3 linked regions of the Homo sapiens genome follow. The protein of the gene in region 3 interacts with the protein of the main gene of each other region in a pairwise test. Each region holds a gene or a part of one and is shown on either strand. Other genes may lie near its edges.

Region 1 (3,652 bases), on a different chromosome or scaffold from region 3:
GTGTCTGGCTTTGTCGCTGAGGTTGGAGTGCAGTGGTGCTATCTCAGCTCACTGCAACCTCAGCCTCCTGGGCTCAAGCGATTCTTGTGTCTCAGCCTCCTGAGTAGCTGGAACTACAGGCACGTGCCACCACGCCTGGTTAATTTTTGTATTTTTTGTATAGGTGGGGTTTCGCCATGTTGCCCAGGCTGGTCTTAAACTCCCGAGCTCAAGCTATCTGCTCACCTTGGCCTCTCAAAGTGCTGGGATTACAGGTGTAAGCCACCACAACCCAGCCTGCTAGAAACATTTCTAATTGATTTTACCTGTTTGTTTTGCTATTATATGAGTTGAACAATAGCCTGTTTAGATCAGTTACCCTTAAAAACAATAAATATCGTAAAGATTTTGGTTTCTCCTTTTCAGAACCTATCTACAAGACCTCTTGTGCTTTGACTATTCATGCTATTGGACGATACAGCCCTGATGTATTAAAGAATCATGCAAAAGAAGTCCTGCCTCTGGCATTTTTAGGCATGCATGAAATTGCTGATGAGGAGAAATCCGAAAAAGAAGAATGTAATTTATGGACCGAAGTGTGGCAGGAAAACGTACCTGGTTAGTAGTGTGGCCTGAGTTAAACCTGCTTCTTAGGAATCACAGCTAGAATTTTTTACTTGCATTCGTTATTCATAAACTCCTCTGAAGTTACTTTCCCAGGACCTTAATATGCATCCCATTTAGTTTTAAACCCATCCAAATTGCTCATCCCATTTAGTTTTGAACCCATCCAAATTGCTGAGTTCTCAAGGTTGGCACTCAGGATTTTTGTCTTTACTCATTCATCACTGCCCACATGAGAGAATATAAACCCTGTGAGCAAGGAGAGCTTTACATTTTTAATTAAGAGTGTGATTTTATGTGGCCTTAGAGTATTTTAGAGTAGTTTTCTAAATGTGTTTTTCACCTTGTCGCATATTAATTGATGATGCCCATTTGTGTGATACGTTCCTGTGGGCACCCAAGTTCGTAAAGTTCTACTATTGTGAGAATAAGTCACAACACCAACACACTTTCTCTCCCTTTGAGAGAGTGGTGTGTTTTAACAGTTGAGAGTCACTGCTTTTAGACTGTTGGTCACTGACTTTTTTTCAGGTTTAGAAAAATCAGTTAATTTTTCTTGTCACTTAAAAGTTGTTTTAATTTTGCTTTCCTAGGATCCTTTGGTGGCATTCGATTATACCTGCAGGAGTTAATTACTATTACCCAGAAGGCTTTGCAGTCTCAGTCCTGGAAAATGAAAGCCCAGGGTGCAATTGCCATGGCATCAATTGCAAAACAGACTAGCTCTCTAGTACCTCCATATCTCGGAATGATACTGACCGCATTGCTGCAAGGCCTGGCTGGAAGAACGTGGGCAGGAAAGGTAAAGGAACCATTCATACCCAGTTAAAGGGATTCTGACTTCATCTTTCATTTTGCATAATAGTAACGATCTGGTTTTGTGTAACTTTTCCAATGGATTATTTTTGTGAACTAGATTTCCTAGACAGTGGAAGCTTTGGGTAAACCTTGCCTGATTAACTGTGGTATTTCCTCTCAAACTGCAACCCGTGTGGCCTTGCATAATGGACAGTAATGCTGGAGATAGATACATTTTCCATATTCAGCCTTCCAAGTTACGTCTTAAACCAACTTGTCAGCATTTTGTACCTGTTGACCTCATGAACAGATCAGGATTGGGCATAGAAAGATCAGGATTGGGCATATGTGAAATAGAGTAGCAAGGTAGCCTGCCTCTAAACCTGGGGCTGAAGATGCCCATCTCTGGGACCTATGAATTAGTAACAGTTATTTTTTTACACAAGAGCTTTAGTAGGATTCTTAACAGTGAACACTCAGTGGGGAACATGAGATTGTGGTAACCTAATGATCTTTATGTTGTAAAGGTCAATAGTGGCCCATGCAGGAATGAAGTAGTACCGGACTGGGAGTCAGACATCATTCCAATTCTGTGGTTGACACTGTTTTCTGTGAGACCTGGGTCGAATCAGTTCTTTAGGCTTCTATGAAATGGAGGTGAAGATAATTATCCTACATCCATGGTTTGGAGTAAAACTTGGTGGATGTGCTTAAAATTATGCATTAAAGATAAGGTGACTGTTGTTAATTTTTGTTGTCATAGTTATCAAAAATTCCTAAGGTAATTGTAATCATGGTTTAGACAGTGTAAATGACATGTTTGGGCTTAATAGTATTTCCTCATCTTTCAACCCCTTAGGAGGAGCTATTGAAAGCCATTGCCTGTGTGGTGACAGCTTGCAGGTAAATGTTCTTTCAATGAAGATGCCATTTCTTAAACTGGACCCGAAAACTGCAGCCTTTATTAACTTCTGATGCTTTTGTATGGACCCTGTAGTGCAGAGCTGGAAAAGTCTGTGCCCAATCAACCCAGCACAAATGAAATTCTTCAAGCTGTTCTGAAGGAATGTAGCAAAGAGAATGTCAAATACAAGATTGTAGCAATCAGCTGTGCAGCTGATATCTTGAAGGCCACCAAAGAGGACAGATTCCAGGAGTTCTCTAACATTGTCATACCTCTCATCAAGAAGGTAATACCACCTGTATCCTCAGTTCTGGTTTATACTTTAAAAAGAAAAAGTTAAAAAATTGTTTTCCCCTATGTCCTGATTATTAGGATTAGTTTAGCTGCAAGTAGCAGAGAAATTCCAAAATACGGCCTTAAACAAGATAGTCAATGCTATGTTTCTCACAAAGCGTTGGGAGCATCACAAAGTGTTCAGGTATTCCGTCTCTTTACAGCTCTGAACTCTGCCATTTCTAGGGTGTGGTCATCATCCTCATGGTCCACAGTGTGTTTGTGTTCTAGGCAGGAATGCAGAGGAGATGAAGCAAGGATGAAGGATACAGTGGGCATGCCATGTCTCTCTTGAGGAGAGTTCCTGGGCACCGCTAGATGGCACTTTGACTTATAGCCATCCTGTTGGTCAGTACTTAGCCACACCTGGCAGCAGACTGAGTCTTCATTCTGGGTGTCCATTTGCCCTCCATGGGAGAAGGGGAGAGTGGATTTGGTAGTGAATGAACAGTTTATGTCATAATAAGCTTTGCCTTGGCTAATAAGCTAAGCCACCCCAGCCATCCTAGAGTAAAGGCAAGAAGCTCAGTGTGCCATGTGAATTGCCTCTGCCATATAGTGGAGGATTTGGGTCAAAAAAAGACTCAAGTTTCATGTGGAAAATGGAATACTCATTTTTAAAAGTTGGGCACTGGTCCCCCCCCCAAAAAAAAGGGTGTGGTTTCCCTGTTTATTTGTGAAACATGAAATATTTTAAGTAACATTCTTATTTCTTATTGCTCCTAAATTGCAGTTGTTTTCTTTCAGTAATAAGGCTATTTAAATAATTTCCATTACAAACATAGTGATAGCATATGGATTTGGGAGACTTGTGTTTTAAGTTGATTACATCACTAGCAAGCTGGACCAGTTGCTTCTCTTAGCCTCTGTTTCTCTATCAAGAAAGAGTTTGGATTTAGATCATTACTGAGTTTCTTCCATCTTTAAAATCTGATTCTAATGCAAGTCTTTTCATGTTATGCTCAAAAGACTACATATGCAGTATTTTTTAGCTTTTGTTTACAGATGCCTGTA
Region 2 (3,652 bases), on a different chromosome or scaffold from region 3:
GGCGCCAGTGTCAGCACTAGACAGGCTGAGATGTCAAGTGGAAATGTCAAGGAGGTGGTGGAGGTGGTGGGAGCTGCAGGGCTGTGAGGCCCGGGAGAGGGCCAGAGCTGCAGCTTTAAATTGGAGGGTCACGGCATGTGGAGGCCAAGGAAGCAGATGGGATGTCCGGGGAGAGAGTATGGACTGAAGCAGCTAAAGAATTGCAGCATCTAATGGACAGGAAGAGGGGCAGCGACAGCGATGGAGCCTGAGAAGGAGGGTGCAGTGTCCCCAAGCCATGTGGAGAGGTTCTGAGATTAAACAGATCACACACATAGCGCAGAGCATGCTGCCCAGCAGACATCCTCCAACCTGCTCAGGGGTGGTGGGCAGGGTCCTGCTCATTCCAGGTGAGACCGTGGGCTGAGGGCTCCAGGTGCTGGCAGGCTCTGAGCTGAGGAAGGCCCGTACGTTCCACAGAGATCTCATGCCTTGCCCTGTGCTCTGCCAGATGGGCAGAAGGACTTAGCCCTATAGGAGGCTTGCCCCCACTCCGTCTGGCCTGTTCAGAAATGGCCAACAGCTCCCGAGTTGGTACAGCCCCCTCAGGACCTGCCCTGCCGACTGGGTACGCCACTGGCCCTCAGCATCCTGACCTGCCCCCACCTTGTCCTGCAGGAGGTGTTTCATAGAGAACTAAGGAGCAACTCCATGAAGACCTGGGGCCTGCGGGCAGCTGGCTGGATGGCCATGTTCATGGGCCTCAACCTTATGACACGGATCCTCTACACCTTGGGTAGGTGTTGGGGTGGGTCACTGCCCTCCCTCCTGCACCCTGAAAGGGCCTCCTCTGCCTGTCGCATCATCTCAGCCCTTCCAGCCTGATGGGATGGCCCTTGTGCAGATACCAGGCATTTGGCTCATCTCTGTGTCCCCGCTCCATAGCCTTGGGATGAGGGAGCAGAGGAAGGCAGGCTTGAGGGCAGGAGCTGCCAGGGGCCAGGCTGGGTGGGGCCAACTCTGGGGCACTGGTCTCACTCCACAGCCTGAAGGTTCGTCCATCTGCTGGCTCGATCATTTGCTCATTCCTTTGATCCACAATTGAATACCACATGGGAGCCTGCCAGACCTGCATTTGAAATCTGTCACGTCCAAGCTCTGGATGCTTGGCCGTTCCCTTCCCATCTCAGCTTCAGTCACCTCACCCCTTACATGCAGAGTTTTATGAAATGTGGCAAATAGGAAACACCCAAAACTCTCATGCTTCCTTCCTCACTCCAAAACCTGGGCTAGATTTGGGCAGCCAGCAAGTCTGGAGCATGAAGGAGAGTTCTGGGCCACTCCTTGACCTGAGGTTGGCACCAGTGAGCCCAGTAGGAGACCTGTGGCCCAGCGTGGTTCGGGATCTGAGTGCCCAGGGTGACTAAGTGCGTTCTGGGCCCAGGAGGATGGGGTTCCTCGGAGGACTCTCCATCCAAGCCTTTCCCTGGTGTGTGTCCCTTCCAGTCACATGATTGCATCAGTCTTCTCTGGGTGCCAACAGAAACCTCTTCCCCACTCAGCATGCACAAGTCAGAAGAGGTCTGGCTGCACATCTTGGGCTGTCTGAGCTGGGGGGACCACCTCCTTTGTTTACAGTTGGGAAAACAGGCCCGGGAAGGGAAGGACTCTCCCTGAGCCTTTCTTTGGACAGCTGAATTGTGCTCAGAAAGACCAGTGACGTGGTGGGCACATTAGCGAGAGATGAGCATTTAAACGGAATCCTCTTTCTTGCCTGTGTGACCCTGGGGAGACCAGTTCCCTTCTGGAGCCTTGGTTTCCTCGTGTCTGTCTCAGTGGGCCCTTCTTTGGATCTCTGATGTCTGTGATCCCAATTCACTCTACGTCTGGAATGCGCCAGACTCAGGACAGACTTAGAGTGTGGAGGGACCCCCAGGGTGGGTGGGGAGAGTTGGGAGCGCAGCAGGGAAGCACACAGTTCCCCATGCGTTTGATAAATACCAACGTGTGTAAGACTCCACAGCTAGAGACAGACAAGACTTAGAGCAACAGCTCAGAGCCCAGGCTCTGGGCCCATACGGTCTTGAGTTCAAATCCTGGTTCTGGCACTTTCTAACAGGAGGACTGGTGGTGAGTTTCTTAATTCCCTGAGTCTCAGTGACCCTGTGGGTAAAATGGAGTTAAGAAGAGTACCTACCTTACAGGGTGGGCATGAGTGCTTCATGAGATGGTGCACATGGTGCCTAACACAGGCAACGTTCAGAAACATGAACTTTGCTTATTATAAGGGCTGAGTAGCAGTGCTGTATGGGAACAGATCAGGATGAGGCCAGGTAGTGGCTTGCAGGGTGTGCTGCAGGCATGGTGGGGCACCAGGGCTTGCTCTGCAAACCCAGTGATTCCAGACCATTGGTGGCCTCCTGGGAACTGAGCGAAGATTCCCTGAGTGGACATCAGCTATGGAATGCCAACCTGGAGAGGTCACACAAGGCAAGAATAGGGTAATTCCTCATGAATTTAGCTGGATTCTGGGCTTTATCCTATTGGACCAATAGTCTGTGAGATTCTTGAGGAGAGGCCAATGCTTAGGCTAATTTATTTCCTCTAGCACCTGCTGGTTCAGTGCTGGGCACATAAATCATTAGTAACAGCCTGCTGCATGAATGAACCAACACCTCTAGGAATGGCTGAGAGGCCCAAATAGGCACCTTCAGGAGGCTCCACCCACAGCCTCTTGTATGAGTGTGCAGGACCCAGGTTATTTCTAGCATTACAGGCAAATGTCTTTATACTGGCCTCAGACTACTCTCCACATAAAGTATTAAAGTTTACAAAGCACTGCTACATCCTCTCCCCTGGATCAGGGTAGAGTGGGTGGCTTAGGCAATGTGCCCAACCACGCAGCTCATAGCAGAGGCTCCTGTGCTCCCTTAGCTTTCAGAACGAAGCTCCTTGCCTTCCACCCACTGATCCTCTCCCCTCCTCATGCATGTAGCAACATGGGCCCATCCTCATCTAGGGACAGGAGAGATCTGCTGAGCTGGTGAGGTGTAGAGCAGGTGGCACCTCATCACCTTTCTCCTTTCCACAGTGGACTGGTTTCCTGTTTTCCGAGACCTGGTCAACATTGGCCTGAAAGCCTTTGCCTTCTGTGTGGCCACCTCGCTGACCCTGCTGACCGTGGCGGCTGGCTGGCTCTTCTACCGACCCCTGTGGGCCCTCCTCATTGCCGGCCTGGCCCTTGTGCCCATCCTTGTTGCTCGGACACGGGTGCCAGCCAAAAAGTTGGAGTGAAAAGACCCTGGCACCCGCCCGACACCTGCGTGAGCCCTAGGATCCAGGTCCTCTCTCACCTCTGACCCAGCTCCATGCCAGAGCAGGAGCCCCGGTCAATTTTGGACTCTGCACTCCCTCTCCTCTTCAGGGGCCAGACTTGGCAGCATGTGCACCAGGTTGGTGTTCACCAGCTCATGTCTTCCCCACATCTCTTCTTGCCAGTAAGCAGCTTTGGTGGGCAGCAGCAGCTCATGAATGGCAAGCTGACAGCTTCTCCTGCTGTTTCCTTCCTCTCTTGGACTGAGTGGGTACGGCCAGCCACTCAGCCCATTGGCAGCTGACAACGCAGACACGCTCTACGGAGGCCTGCTGATAAAGGGCTCAGCCTTGCCGTGTG
Region 3 (3,652 bases):
ATCTCCAGCTCAGAACTCTCTCCTGAGTTCCCCAACCAAACATGAACTAGACACCTCCAAGTGGAAGTCCCCATGGCACCTCAGACATAACTCTCACAAACTCTACTTCCCTGGCACACCCATCTCAGTGATGGCACTCACTAGTTGGAGCCAGAAAACAAACTGTGCCTTCCTTGATCTTTTTGTTTTTTTGAGATGGAGTCTCGCTCTGTCACTCAGGCTGGAGTGCAGAGGGATGATCTCGGCTCACTGCAACCTCCGTCTCCCGGGTTCAAGCGATTCTCCTGCCTCAGCCTCCCAAGTAGCTGGGATTACAGGAGCACACTACCATACCCGGCTAATTTTTGTATTTTTAGTAGAGATGGGTTTTCACCAGGTTGGCCAGGCTGGTCTTGAACTCCTGACCTCAAGTGGTCCACCTGCCTCACCTCCCAAAGTGCTGGGATCACAGGCATAAGCCACTGCGCCTGGCCCCTTGATCTTTCACTGAACCTGCCCCATGCTCAGACTTAGTTATCAAATCTTGGGGCATTTATCTCTTTAGTGTTTCCCATATCCATCTAGTTCTCTCCTTTCCCACTGTCCTTCTATAATTTCAAACTTATTAACTCTCATCTAGATTACTGCAACAGTCTCTTAACTGAAATAGAATAAGATAGGATAGCATAGAAAGTATAAGAGTGCAAAACATGAAGTAAGGAAAAGTGATGTTTGGTTTTAGTTATGACTACATATATGTATACGTGAACTGTGCAACATGAAAAGTATTTATCATTGTAGGTCCTCAGAACTGATCCTAACAGGGCTGGACAAGTGTCTAAGCTCCCTGTAAAGCCACATGTAGTCACTGAGCACTTGAAATTAGCTAGTCCGAATTGAGATGTATTGCAAGCACAATATACACATTGGATTTCAGACTTAGTATGAAGAAAATAATATAAGATCTCATTAATAATTTTTATATTGCATGCTGACATAATATTTTGGATACAAAATTAATTTCACCTTTTTTAACCTTTAAAACTGTGGCCACTTGAAAATTTTCAATTACACATGTGGCTCATGCTGTATTTCTACTGGGCAGAGCTGTTCTAGAGTTCTAGGCCAGTATGTGACCCACAATGGGGGCTTAAGATCCACTCAAAAATGGATTGATCCTTTCCATGTCCCAAAATATGTATTGGGGTGAGCAAGTAAAACCTTTTCTTCAAATGCAGGGACTTTTCTTAACTTGGGGATTGGGTTAACAGAGTCCTCCCTGCTGGGAAGTACTTCCCCTCAATGGATAAAAAATAGCTTTTAAGAAAGTCTAATATGTTAAAGTCAAACTTACAAAAAAGCTCTCTTAAGGGATTTCAGCATCCTGGCATGCTTCCACAAACCAAACTACTACCTTCTATTAAACGGAAATGCCCCTTTAGGGGCAAGGGGTTTGGATTCACTTCTTTTATTTCTCTCCACAGCACCTGGTGCATTGCTGTGTCTGGAAGTTGTTAACCACCTGGCTGACTGTGGATCCCATGGGTAAGGGGATGGTAGGGGTTGGTAAGGATTGGTAAGAGACTCAGTTTTCTCTCAGTTATCTTCCAAAACTCTGCATTGCTAAATACTTTAAATCTTCCTCACTGCCTGATTGAGGACATATACATGCACTCTTTTGATTTCTATATGCTAAATCATCAAAATAAAACACAGAAGCTACCTATTATATTTGATTTAGGTTTATTTCTTCCATAAGGGTTTAGCATTAGGCAAATTGGGTTGGAGGGGTAGTGAGAGAACAAACCTAAAAGAATGGAAGAAACTAATTGATTGATTCCATGCTAAATACACCTGACTAGTATCAATTTGCAAGACATGGATGTTGCATTTGGATAGAGACCAGCAGGAAGATACCTAATAATAACCTTAGGCAGAATTCCAGTTGACCACAGTAAATACCCAAGGAAGCTCACGTTTGTTTATTTTCGCCAATATTGCGCATTAAGAGTGTTTCACTTTTAAAATGTATGCTGTTCTGGGTGGCTAAGTAGATGGCAATATTAGCAAAGGAAGCCATTGATGTCTCTGGAAATCTGGTCATCTTTTTGAATACTAGCAGATGAGCATGCTACCTCCAAACTGACATAATGCACCTTCTGCAAGACAGCAGTCTCTTGGCACTGCTCCACTTTGAAGTAAAACCCGAAATGAACTCCTCCTGCTAATGTGGCATGTTGAACCAACCCTTTTTTATTTCCAAGGCCTTCTCAGTTGATCCATAGTATATCCATCTTCATGGAAGTGACTATTGCAGTCTAGAATTACAATTCCTTCTGACAACAGAATGCACCCCTAGAAGAACTTGTCCAAGGTCATTAACCAAATTCTCAAGCAGACAACTTTCAGGGTGGCTGGGCCTTGTTAGAAAGGGCTTCTGGGACACCTGCTGAGCCCAGAGGATCTTTCTAGGCATAATCTGAGGGCTGGGAAGATATGAGGACACAGTCCTTGCTCAGAGGAGTCCTTGTATCTCAGGAGTTAGATTTCCAAGAAGGGCTATTACATCATATCACCCAAGGCCACTCAGTTTCTCATCTTGACAGTCAAGCTGATGAGTCACCTTGCATCATGTTTAATCAGGAAAATAGTAAAGAACTGAAAACAAGTCAAGAATCAAGAGTAAACATTGTAACAATGTAAAGAGTTCTCAGAAGCATCTCAAATCAGAGCACCATGGTAAAATGGTAAGAGTAGTAAGATTATATTCCTAAAATATAGGCTCTATCATAAAACCTAGGTAATGCTTTTGTTATTTCTTTTCTAATTTCTTTATCAGAGTTACTGCATTCTATTTAATCGTCTCCTTTCTTATATTTTCCTCTAATGAAGAATAAGGCAGGTAGAGAAACTACAAGTTTTCCTGGCAGAAGAACTTCCCCTTGAAATATAATTCAATCATATCTGCAATATTATTATCAATTTGTTACTTACAGGGATCTAAAATATAGACTGCTTTAAAGTCTATTTATTCACTCACGTATGCCAGCTCCCCACTTCATTTCAGCAACTAGGAGAAGGAGCCTGCCCTCTGAAGGAGAATCCAAGTGTGGAGCTTCAATCCTAAACAGGCCCCCTGCAAATATTTCATACACTTTCCATAGTTAGTTAAGCAACTCAGTAGCCACACTCTGTTGATGGCTGTGGTGTCAGTGACCCACATACAATTTGGAGCTATATGCCTGGGTGCTGGGAGAAATGCAGAATTTATACAATTTGAAATATGAAGACACTAGCAAAGCTACAAGATCAACAGAAACTACTAAAAACCAGAGAAAGAAATGCTAATTTCATGTTTTCACTTGCTGCTCACTCTCTTCATCAACAAACTTTTTTATTAAGTAGTTAGCATGTGCCTTAGTTATTAAAGTAAGATCATTAGCAAAGGAAAGTTAGGCTATAAAGTATAAATCTAAATTTAGAATATAACCCTACAGTGATCAAAGTTAGCTAATAAGAGAGAAGGCAATTTGAAAATTTTAGTAGTGTTTTATAAATTGGTTGCAAGCCCCTGTTTAAACAGAGTCAAATTTCAGTAGCCCATGACAATGATGAACAACGTGGAAAATTTTGTATCATAAGTAAATCAAAGCAGGTGCTTCAACAGTTCAAC

What was found.
Region 1: the proteins of PCYT1B (region 3) and ECPAS interact in a two-hybrid assay, tested with the Homo sapiens proteins (one large-scale study listed by BioGRID).
Region 2: the proteins of PCYT1B (region 3) and TMEM43 interact in binary tests that used the Homo sapiens proteins (3 or more experiments, as listed by UniProt).

What each region holds. Positions count from the first base shown.
Region 1 is NC_000009.12:111,369,374-111,373,025, reverse strand, and holds part of ECPAS (proteasome adapter and scaffold protein ECM29), read left to right. Parts: intron 1-405; coding exon 406-597; intron 598-1,196; coding exon 1,197-1,405; intron 1,406-2,260; coding exon 2,261-2,304; intron 2,305-2,398; coding exon 2,399-2,591; intron 2,592-3,652. UniProt on the Homo sapiens protein: Adapter/scaffolding protein that binds to the 26S proteasome, motor proteins and other compartment specific proteins. May couple the proteasome to different compartments including endosome, endoplasmic reticulum and centrosome.
Region 2 is NC_000003.12:14,138,523-14,142,174, forward strand, and holds part of TMEM43 (transmembrane protein 43), read left to right. Parts: intron 1-657; coding exon 658-775; intron 776-3,070; coding exon 3,071-3,273; 3' UTR 3,274-3,652. UniProt on the Homo sapiens protein: May have an important role in maintaining nuclear envelope structure by organizing protein complexes at the inner nuclear membrane. Required for retaining emerin at the inner nuclear membrane.
Region 3 is NC_000023.11:24,640,760-24,644,411, forward strand, and holds part of PCYT1B (choline-phosphate cytidylyltransferase B), read right to left. Parts: intron 1-3,652.